Linked DNA regions of Homo sapiens. The protein of the gene in region 1 purifies or fractionates together with the protein of each later gene. This does not show direct contact. Each region holds a gene or a part of one and is shown on either strand. Other genes may lie near its edges.

Region 1 (3,650 bases):
TATGAGAATCTAATGCTGTGCCTGATCTGAAAGGAAGTGGAGCTCAGGCAGTAATGTTAGCAATGGGGAGCTGTTGTAAATATAGAAGAAGCTTTGTGAGCTCATGTCCTGCTGTGCTGCCTGGTTCCTAACAGGCCACCAACTGGTACTGGCCAGGGGGTTGGGGACCCCCTGCATTGACCCTTTCTTTCTTTTCTTTTTTTTTTTTTTTTGAGACAGAGTCTCGCTTTGTCATCCAGGTTGGAGTACAGTGGCATGATCTCCAGTCACTGCAACCTCTGCCCCCCAGGTTCAAGTAATTCTTCTGCCTCAGCCTCCTGAGTAGCTGGGACTACAGACATGCACCACCACACCTGGCTAATTTTTTTTTTTTTTTTTTTTTGAGACAGAGTAGCTGGGATTACAGGTATGCACCACCGTGCCTGGCTAATTTTGTATTTTTAGTAGAGATGGGGTTTCTCCATGTTGGTCAGGGTGGTCTCGAACTTCCAATCTCGAACTTCCAATCTCAGGTGATCCGCCCGCCTCGGCCTCCGAAGTGCTGGGATTACAGGCGTAAGCCACCACGCCTGGCATTTTTTTTTTTTTTTTTTTTTTTTTTTTTTTTGAGACAGTATCTTGCTCTGTCTCCCAGGCTGGAGTGCAGTGGCACCATCTCAGCTCACAGCAACCTCCGCCTCCTGGGTTCAAGTGATTCTCTTGCCTCAGCCTTCCGTATGGCTGGGATTACAGGTGCCCACCACCACACCCGGCTAATTTTTGTGTTTTTTTTTTAGTAGAGACAGGGTTTCACCATGCTGGCCAGGATGGTCTTGAACTCCTGACCTCAAGTGATCCGCCCACCTGAGCCTCCCAAAGTGCTGGGGTTACAGGCATGAGCCACCACTCCCGGCCAACCCTTTTTTTTATGGCTTCTAAGATAAGAAGTCATACTCAGGGAATGCCTTGTCCACTGAGATTTTAAAATAATTTTCCTAATTTTTTTTTTATACATTTGAAAATAGAACTTTTGGCCGGCGGATCACGAGGTCAGGAGATTGAGGCCATCCTGGCTAACATGGTGAAACCCTGTCTCTACTAAAAATACAAAAAAATTAGCCGGGCGAGGTGGCGGGCGCCTGTAGTCCCAGCTACTCGGGAGGCTGAGGCAGGAGAATGGCGTGAACCCGGGAGGCGGAGCTTGCAGTGAGCCGAGATTGCACCACTGCACTCCAGCCTGGGCAACAGAGTGAGACTCTTTCTCAAAAAAAAATAATAATAAAATAAAAAACTTTAATTGAATAACCTGGAATTAGATACCAAGAAAAAAAAATCTTTTTTTTTTTCCCTGAGACAGTCTCATTCTGTCACCCAAGCTGGAGTAGTGCAGTGGTGCGACTTTGACTCACTACAACCTCTGCCTCCTGGACTCAAGTGATCCTCCAACCTCAGCCTCTTGAGTAGCTGGGATTACAGGCGTGCACCATCATACCCAGCTAATTTTTCATTTTTAGTAGTGATGGAGTTTCACCATGTTGGCCAGGCTGGTCTCGAATTCCTGACCTCAGATGATCTGTCTGCCTTGGCCTGCCAAAGTGCTGGGAGTACAGACGTGAGGCACTGCACCCAGCCAAAATACATCTTTTATTGAAGTATGATGTACTTATAGAAGAGTGCCCGTGTCATAAGTGAATTTTCAGAAACTGAGTACACTTGTATAAGTAGTATAATAGTTCTCAAAATGTAATCTCTGTATTCCTGGGGTTCCCTATATCCTTCCAGAGGGTCTGTGATGTCAAAACTATTTTCATAATAATACTGAGGTGTTATTGTTTTCACTGTGTTGATATTTGTACTGGTGGTACAAAATCAGTGGTTGGTAAAACTGGCCCCAGCCTGTAGTCCCAGCTACTCCAGAGGCTGAGGTGGGAGCATCACTTGAACCCAGGAGTTTGAGACTCGGCTTGGTCTTTTGGAGCTATAATTGTACCACTGCACTCTATCCTGGGCTACAGAGTAAGGCTGGGCTCTATCTTTTGGAGCTATAATTGCCCCCACTGCACTCCATCCTGGGCTACATAGCAAGACTCTGTCTGTGAAAGAAAAAGCAAAAACAAAATCTCTTGGCCCTTTAGTACAAATTGAGACAGCAGCACCAAACTGTATGCTAGAAAGGGTCTCCCTCTGTCTCCCAGGCTGGAGTATAGTGGCGCTGTCATGGCTCACTGCAAGCTTGAGCTCCTAGGCTCAAGCTGTTCTCCCACCTCAGCCTCCTGAGTAGATGGGACTACTGTCTATGCCTGGCTACTACACCTAGCTAATTATGTTATTTTTTATAGAGATGGGGTCTTGTCGTGTTGCCTAGGCTGATCTTGAAATCCTGGCCTTAAGCAATCGTCCTGCCTTGGCCTCCCAAAGTGCTGGGATTACAGGTGTGAGCTACTGCACCTAGCCCTAAGGACATTCTTGAATGAAAATGACTTTTTTTTTTTGAGATGAAGTCTCACTCTGTTGACAGGCTGGAGTGCAGTGGCGCCATCTCGGCTCACTGCAACCTCCTCCTCCCAGGTGCAAACAATTCTCCTGCCTCAGCCTCCTGAGTAGCCAGGACTGCAGGCACACGCCACCATGCCCAGCTAATTTTTGTATTTTTAGTAGAGACGGGGTTTCACCATGTTGGCCAGGATGGTCTCAATCTCTTGACCTCGTGATCTGCCCACCTCGGCCTCCCAAAGTGCTGGGATTACAGGCGTGAGCCACCGTGTCTGGCTGCCTTTTTATTATTATATTATTTTTAATTTTAAGTGCGTGGTAGTAAATTAAACACCTGGGTGAGGTGGCTCGTGCCTATAATCCTAACACTTTGGGAGGCCTAAGCCGGAGGATTTCTTGAACCCAGGATTTCCAGATTAGTCTGGGCAACACAGTGAAACACATCTCTACAAAAAAAAAAAAAAAAAAAAAAGCTGGGTGTGGTGGCATGTGTGTGTAGTCCTGTAGTCGCACCTACTGGGGAAGCTGAGCCAGAAGGATTGTTTGAGCTCAGGCGTTCAAGGTTGCAGTGGGTTATCATCATGCCACTATACTCCCGGCCTGGGTGACAGAGTCCCTGACTCCAAAAAAAAAAAAAAAAAAGGAAAAAGAAAAGAACATTCTTAGGATAGAAGCAGTGGCTCACACCTATAATCCCAACACTTTGGGAGGCTGTAATGCCCAACCTGGTATTTACTAACTCTGTTTTTAGACTCTCCCTTTTCCCTTAATCACCTAGTCTTGTTTCCACCTGAATTGACTCTCCCTTAGCTAAGAGAGCCAGAGAGACTCCATCTTGGCTCTTTCACTGGCAGCCCCTTCCTCAAGGACTTAACTTGTGCAAGCTGACTCCTAGCACATCCAAGAATGCAATTAACTGATAAGATACTGTGGCAAGCTATATCCGCAGTTCCCAGGAATTCGTCCGATTGATAAACGCCCAAAGCCCCGGATCTATCACCTTGTAATAGTCTTAAAGCCCCTGCACCTGGAACTGTTTACTTTCCTGTAACCATTTGTCCTTTTAACTTTTTGACTACTTTACTTCCGTAAAATTGTTTTAACTAGACCCCCCCTCCCCTTCCTAAACCAAGGTATAAAAGTTAATCAAGCCCCTTCCTTGGGGCCGAGAGAATTTT
Region 2 (3,650 bases), on another chromosome or scaffold:
GGATTGCAGATCACAGTCAGCTTCAAGAGTATATGCTGAGCTGTATACTATTTTTAAAAATAATTCTGGAATATTTTCTTGTCTGAGCCATCTTTGACTCTTATCTTGTTCTGCATATTCAATTGCACTTTGATCAGTTTTAGCTTTCCCCAAATATCTACTTGGTGCCAGTGTGTCTCATTTTACCAAATGATGAAAATCCAAAGATTTGTGACCATGGGGATCCTCTTGCCCGTATAGTGCTTACAGTCTGCTCAGGGTGGAGCCCCTTAGAATGGAAACAAAGTCAGTGACAAATATATATCAGTGCCTTCTATGTGCCCGGCATGGTTCTAGGTGCTAGAGACAGAGCAGGGAACACAGCAGTGTGTCTCACAGAGCTTATGGTCTAGGCAGTGACTACAGTGCACGTGGGAAGAGCTCTCAACTCTCTTCTCTCACCTTGACCCAGATGAGTAAGGAAATTAAGGGTGTACATGTGAATATGGGTGTTGGGGGTTGTGGGAGGGGAGGAGTGGGGACAGAAAGGAAGGAAGTTGTTTTCTATGGACGACAGCATCAGTGCTGTCTATGGCAGAAGCTCTTCCCTATCTTACCGCATTTCTGGACTTAGTGAAAGAACGGGCAGGCAGGAAGTGCACAGACCAAGTGCAGAACCCAGAGGACTACAAATATTCTTTTTTTTTTTTTATTTTGAGCCTGTCGTCAGGCTGGAGTGCAGTGGTGTGATCTCGGCTCACTGCAACCTCCGCCTCCCGGGTTCAAGCAATTCTGCTGCCTCAGCCTCCCAAGTAGCTGGGATTATAGGCTCCCACCACCACACTCAGCTAATTTTTGTATTTTTAGTAGATACGGGGTTTCACCATGTTGGCCAGGATTGTCTCGATCTCTTAACCTCGTGATCCACCCACCTCGACCTCCCTAAGTGCTGGGATTACAGGCGTGAGCCACCGTTTGGACCAGGACTACAAACCTTCTAGAAACTGCCCCTGGAGCCCTCCTCTAAATTCCACACCCAACTCACCCTGCCCTCTGCTGGTCATCAAAGGTATTTTTTAATGTGTGTTTTCTGTTTTTGCCAGAACAACCTGCCCCAAGTTTCAAGGAGGAGAATCAGGGCAGCTGAAAATACAAGCCGTGCTAATGTGAGAATGTAATAGCTGGAGGATATCTCAGAGATGGTCTGATCCCTTCACTTTACAAATGAAAAAAAAATTCGGAGAAATTCCTTACTTGCTGCTTAATTTCTGTCAGGACAAGCTAATTAGCAAGTCCAGTGTGGTTCTTATCATTGCCCACCTGCCTAGTTCAATATCAGATCTAAATGCAACAGAATACGCTCATTGATTCTATATGGTTTTCTCTTCCTTGATAAGAAATAAAGATAATAATCTAATTTCTCCTGCTTCCATTTCCTATACTACCCTTTGTGTGCTCAGTAATTACAGATTTTACTGAACTCTGTCATGGGCAGTTTTTGGACTTGGTCTAATGGTCTAGATTCTGTTTGGAAGTTTCTTAAGGGCAGTATATCTAGGGGTTAAAACCCCAGAATTTAGGGTTAAAGAGAATTGAATTCAGGTTTTAACACTGTCATTTCTACCTATATGGCATTCAAAAGATTCATTTACCTCTGTTACAGATAAAGATAAAAATAAGAATTTGCACTTCATGGGTGGTTGGTAGTGGTCTGTGGGTATGTGCATATAAGTGCATGCACTAACTGACACATTATCAAGATGATATCGACAACATGTTAGATTTCTCCCATGCTGCCCATCGTCATCTAAGGCAAAGTCCTCCAGCTAGGTATTTATCCTATGTAATAGAAGAATTGGCAAAACTTTTGTTATTATTTTCCTTTCTAAATCTAATGATGGAGGCCTAACTAGGAGAGGACCTCATAGTCATCACAGGAGAATTTAAATGTTCTTTTACTGTCATTATCCAGGTGTAAATGATTGCAGAAATAAGCGCTTACTCACCAGGAGCTCTGATTCTGGACAGAGTGTTCATCCTGTAGTGGCTCTGAAGGTCATCACCTTCTGTTGAAAGAAGTCCTGACTACAAGGCCGTCTTCTACCCCACAGGTGGCCAATAAGCACCTCTGCGGACGCCTTCCGTTGTCCAGTAATTGATTTTACATTTACAACGGATGTGTTATCTTAAACCCTCCTCAGAGGTGCCAGCTAGACAAATGGAATATTTTACAGTTATTTTCGAAAAAGTTTTTAAGCATTTATGAGACGAAGTGTATACAGTGCCTCTAAAGAAGGGTCTCTATTCTTCCTCCTTGGATCTTTACATTTACTAAATATAACTTCTGGTCAATACCACACTGGATACAAGATGTTATTTACATCCACTTAGGCTGGGAAAAGTGCTCAGCACAAATGTTAACAACCATTAAGAAGGGCTAAAAATAAAAGTGATCTCACTTCCATGCCTTGGGAGTTTCTCCCCATCATTATCAAGGGCAAACACAGAAACAGGACCTACTCCAGGACAGGAGAGAGCCCTTCCAGGAATAGAGTAAGGAGTGGGGACCTGTCACACCCCAGTGGCTGCCTGGGTCTGCCTGCATAGATCTGTCGTAAAAGTACCTGGATGGCTGGGCACAGTGGCTCATGTCTGCAATCCCAGTACTTTGGGAGGCCGAGACGGGTGGATCATATGAGGTCAGGAGTTCAAGACCAGCCTGGCCAACATAGTGAAACCCTAAAAGTACAAAAATTAGCCAAGTGGTAATGGTGCGTGCCTGTAATCCCTGTAACTCGGCAGGCTGAGGCAGGAGAATGACTTGAGTCTGTGAGGTGGAGGTTGTGGTGAGCCAAGATTGCACCATTGCACTCCAGTCTGGGCAACAGGGTGAGACTCTCTCTCTAACAAAACAAAACAAAGCAAAACAAAACAAAACAGTACTTGAATGGCCAAGCCTGTTGGCTCACGTGTGTAATCTCAGCACTTTGGGAGGCCCAGGTGGGAGGTTCACTTGAGGCCAGGAGTTCGAGACCAGCCTGTACAACATAGTGAGACCCCATCTCTACAAAAAAATTATAAATAGCCAGGCATTGTGGCACATGCCTGTAGTCCCAGCTACTTGAGAGGCTGAGGCAGAAGGATTGCTTGAGCCCAGGAATTTGAGGCTGCAATGAGCTACTGCACCAGTGCATTCCAGCCTGGACAACAGAGCGAGACCCTTCCTCTAAAGAAAAAAAAAAAGAGCACATGAATGATGCTGGTCACTCCCCAGCTGTGGTGGGGGAGGGTTACTGGGCCCAATATTACCATAGATACATGTGTGCTTGTTTATGTGAATAGGTCTCTTGCTCTGACGGTTCATTTCTTCCCTCCCTTACTGCCCCTGTAAAGCTTATCATATAATATTTCATGCTAAAAAGTGATCTAATCCTCATTAACTCTGTTTTTTTTCCAGAGTTTTGCATTTTTTTTTTTGTAATCATTAGTTTATAAATACTGCCCATTTTGCTTTCCATCACAATCATTCCCAGGTGAGTGTAGAAAAAGCTGCATTCAGGAATATGGTAAAATATTGCAGGAAGATTTATGCCATTTTGATTGGTTTGTTTCAGGTTGCCTGAATTTTTAATACCCCTTTCTTGTCACAGAGAAGAGAACTTTGTTATTTT
Region 3 (4,378 bases), on another chromosome or scaffold:
GGAATATCATTGAATGTATGAATTGCTTTGGTCAATTAGGCCATTTTGCCAGTATTGCTTATTCCTGTTCACGAGCATGAAATGTTTTTCCATTTGTTTGTGTCATCTCTGATTTCTTTGAGCAGTGTTTTGTAGTTCTCATAGTAGAGATTGTTCTCCTCCCTCGTTAGCTGTATTCCTAGGTATTTTATTTTTTTTTTTTGTGGCAATTGTGAATGGGATTGTGTTTCTGATTTGGCTCTGCGCTTGAAGGTAGTTGGTGTACAGAAACACTTCTGGTTTTTATACATTAATTTTGTATCTTGAAGCTTTCCTGAAGTTGTTTATAAGATCAAGGAGCTTTTGGGCAGAGATTCTGGGATTTTCTAGGTATAGAATCACATGGTTTCCAAACAGATTGTTTGACTTGTGTGAAAAACATAGTGGAGTAGAAGCAAACACGTGTCAGCAATGGAATAGAAAAATAAAAGTGCCCATGAATAAATTTAATTTGAATGTGAAGAACTAATATGAAGCAAATAACACAATCATTGTGTGGGATATGTTAAAAGACTTGAGGAATTGAGGAGTGGCTTTTTTTTTTTGATAGAGAGATTCTAAAATAGAAAGATGGCTATTGTCCCAGAGTTAACATGTAATATAAAAATAATAACTAGTGTCTCAACAGTAATATTTTAGCACCTGATCAAATGATTCTGAAGTTCATCTGAAAGACCAACGTGTCAGAATTGATAGAAAAGGAGAAATCAATGAGGGAGGGCAAGCATTATTTCACATTTCAAATATAATTAAGCTACAGCAATTAAAATAGTGTAGTAGTGGTACAGGTATAAACAACTCAATGGAAGAAAATTAAAAGAAGAGAGTTACATACAAAATTGAGTGGGGATGTAGGTGATGATAAGAGCCATTTCAAAACAGTGGGTGAAACAGGGATTCAACAAATAATGTTGAGTTCCTACCACTTTAATTTTGTCCAGATGGATCAAAGATTTTGAACGTACAATAATGCAACCAAAAACTATGAATGTCTTATGATATTGCAGTGGGTGAGACCATTGCAAGCATGACAGCAAACTCGTGAAGGAGGCAAGAAAATGATTTATGGAAGCGTATATAAAACAGGTATTAAAATATTTAAGATTTATTTCTATGATGGTGAATTTTTCTGAAACACATTATTAGAGTAACCTGAGGCTCATATTCTCTAACGCCACTGGAAGTGAAAGAAAGGGTGGGCGGGGAAAAAAGAAAAGTGCTTTGCAAGTTCATTTTCGTTGTCAGGAGCGCTGGTGGTTTACTCCACAGAGGCAGGAAAACTTCAGTCACGAGGCGAATACCCCACTCAGTGCGCATGCTGCACAGACCTGTTGGTGCCCATGTCTGTTGCTATGCGTGTCTGTTGTTGCGCAGGCGCCTTGCTGCCCGTCTTGTGTCCGCACAGAGGTCTGCAAGGAGAGAGAGTGTCTTCATTCTTTCCGCCATCTTGATTCTTTCTCACTGACCAAGACTCAGCCGGTAGGTCTGCAGAACGGTGTTACTGGGAATTTAGTTGTGAGAGAATGTGTGGAGGAGCCAGCTGGCTTTGGACAGGTCCTGCGGCACAGTCTGTGGCTTCTGAGGGAAAAGGGCCTCGGGGCCGTCATCCAGCTCCTCCCAGGTCGCGACGCCACCATGGGACTTGTCCTGACTGGGCTGGGATGAGGGAGGAAGGTGGGCCGCAGAGGGGAGGGATTGCCTGAAGATGGGGCAAGTGCTGGGGGTGCAGTTAGCGGTGTTTGAGTCTCGAAAACTCCTGGAACCCTCTGAGAGAGGACAGTTTCCAAACTCCTCAGTAGGGACGCGGGAAGGGACCGTGTGGTCAGTAACGAAGGGGCTTGGGAACTGGGAGCGCGGTGGGCTGGTGACTGTGGCCCCGAGGTCTGTAGAGTGCCTGGCAGAGGTGTCCTGTGAGGAGCATAACGTTCACTCTGTTTCACAATTTCTCACCTCCGCCATGGACATCATAGGAAGGAATGGGCGAGGCTGTGCTTTCCAACAAGACTTGATTTTGAGAGGGGTGTGGGGGTGAAATGGGCCTAGCAAATCAGAGTGGGACAAAAGCAGTAGTCATTTCAGTTTCAATTCTCTGCCCGTTTTTTCCTAAATGTCTTCATGATGGAGAGTCTAATTGTGAAACCAAAACGCAGAAATGTCCTCTGTCTTTTGCTATGGCGTTAAGGGGATTTCTATGCCTCTTCGACTATGATACAAACAAATCTGTCCTTAGTTTGATTCGAAAGCATGTGTACTTATCATTGCTCTGTGACTTAATTTGAAAATATTTTCAAAATTAAAAAAGTACAAATCACCATTTTGCCGTGGAATGTTCATATATATAACTAAGTTCTTACACACTTTTTCCAAATAACAATATTCTGTTTGCAGTGGGAAATATGAGTGAGCTTCTAAGAGCAAGATCCCAATCCTCAGAAAGAGGAAATGACCAAGAGTCTTCCCAGCCGGTTGGATCTGTGATTGTGAGTCTTTTAACATTTGATGTTTTCTATTAACACAATTTATTTTAAAAATATTTTTGAGCTAGTATACATACACTGATACAGGTGTTCCATGCTGATAAAAAATGATGATGGCATCTCATGAAGGAAACTTTGGTTCAGGAATACTATATTCTGGTGTTACCTGTATGGATATGGATATTTCTCTCTCTCTCTCTATCTCTATGTATGTATCTGTCTGTCTGTCTATCTATCTATCTATCTATCTATCTATCTATCTATCATCTATCTATCTATATGTGTGTGTATGTGTTTATATATGTTGGAAAAATGTCTTTAGATGTGTGATTCGATGCACATATGCATTTGTGTATTTATATTATTGACTTTTTATTCACACACACACTTACACCCTTAGGTCCAGGAGCCCACTGAGGAAAAACGTCAAGAAGAGGAACCACCAACTGATAATCAGGGTATTGCACCTAGTGGGGAGATTGAAAATCAAGCAGTGCCTGCTTTTCAAGGTGAAGGGAGAGTGGAAAATAATGCTTATGGGTGGTGGAGGTCTATTTATGCATTGTATTTTATGACATACCAGTAACAGGAGGACAGAAAGCATTAGGAAGGAATCTTAAACATTTCCTACTGCTGCTGTGTGGAGGGGTGGGACAAGGATGCATAAAAAGCCACTAAGCTTTCCTACCACTTTGATGGAGGCTTTTTATTGATTGGGTATTTTCATGGTTGCCATAAACCTTTTTCCAGAGCTCCTGTATGCTTTGTTCAGCCATTTTCTGTTTTTTGTTGCTGTGGAAGAATGGCAGCTTGCAGCTTCCTAGTCTGCCATCTGTGGACACGTCATGTATTTTTTAAGAAACTTTTTAACACACCTTTATTGATGCTTCCTCATACCACGTAATATACTAAGTGCTGGAGATGTCAGTGCCAAATTTTTGCCTAAAGCTCATAGTCTAGTCAGACTGACTCAAACAAATGGCTGATTTAATGTGATAAGAATAAGAACAAATGAGTATAAAAGGGACAAGTAAGTTGTCTAGGGCCAGCCTTGGGAAAGAAAAGGGCAATGTTCGAATATCTCTGCTTTCCTGTTTTCCTGGCAGCAGATTCCTGAAATAATTAGCCTACCGGTTTTTATTTCATAATGATGAGGGAATAAATACTATCATTTCCTCGTTCATAGTTCATGTTTTAATTTGTAAATTGATGACCTTTTTATCTTTTAAGGGCCTGACATGGAAGCTTTTCAACAGGAACTGGCTCTGCTTAAGATAGAGGATGAGCCTGGAGATGGTCCTGATGTCAGGGAGGGTATTATGCCCACTTTTGATCTCACTAAAGTGCTGGAAGCAGGTTTGTTATTCATTTAAGATGCAAACTATTGTATTTCTATTTTCACAGTATTTTGTGTGACACAGAGGTAAAATTACTGCTACTTTAATATCATACTTCACGTCTGAAGGTTCTTTGAATGTAGTTCAGACCCCAAATGGCTGCCTTACACACTATCAGGGATAGAGGGCCAGGTGTGGTGGCTCATGCTTTTAATTCCAGCACTTTGGGAGGCCGAGGCAGAAGGATCACTTGAGGCCAAGACTTCAAGAGACAGAGAAAAATTGGGTCAAAACTAATTGGATTACGATATGAAAGAAATGAAACATGCTAAAACAGTAGATTTCAAGTGTCTTCACAGCTATATGAAGTAATGCATATATTAATTAGCTTGATGTAGCCATTTTACAATGTGTATATATATATATTTAAAACGTCATGTTTTACATGATAAATATATACAATTTTATGTGTCATTTTTAAAGAAAGATGAAAACGTGTTCTGACTTTTAAATGTAAGTCATTTT

The links.
Region 2: the proteins of ZBTB8OS (region 1) and ATP8A2 fractionate together in Homo sapiens (co-fractionation; one large-scale study listed by BioGRID). This does not show direct contact.
Region 3: the proteins of ZBTB8OS (region 1) and PAGE2 purify together in Homo sapiens (affinity purification with mass spectrometry; one large-scale study listed by BioGRID and IntAct). This does not show direct contact.

Annotation. Positions count from the first base shown.
Region 1 is NC_000001.11:32,643,999-32,647,648, reverse strand, and holds part of ZBTB8OS (protein archease), read left to right. Parts: intron 1-3,650. UniProt on the Homo sapiens protein: Component of the tRNA-splicing ligase complex required to facilitate the enzymatic turnover of catalytic subunit RTCB. Together with DDX1, acts by facilitating the guanylylation of RTCB, a key intermediate step in tRNA ligation.
Region 2 is NC_000013.11:25,374,909-25,378,558, forward strand, and holds part of ATP8A2 (phospholipid-transporting ATPase IB), read left to right. Parts: intron 1-3,650. UniProt on the Homo sapiens protein: Catalytic component of a P4-ATPase flippase complex which catalyzes the hydrolysis of ATP coupled to the transport of aminophospholipids from the outer to the inner leaflet of various membranes and ensures the maintenance of asymmetric distribution of phospholipids.
Region 3 is NC_000023.11:55,087,586-55,091,963, forward strand, and holds the start of PAGE2 (P antigen family member 2), read left to right. Parts: upstream 1-1,432; 5' UTR 1,433-1,518; exon of another isoform or gene 1,519-1,660; intron 1,661-2,427; 5' UTR 2,428-2,435; coding exon 2,436-2,519; intron 2,520-2,916; coding exon 2,917-3,025; intron 3,026-3,746; coding exon 3,747-3,872; intron 3,873-4,378.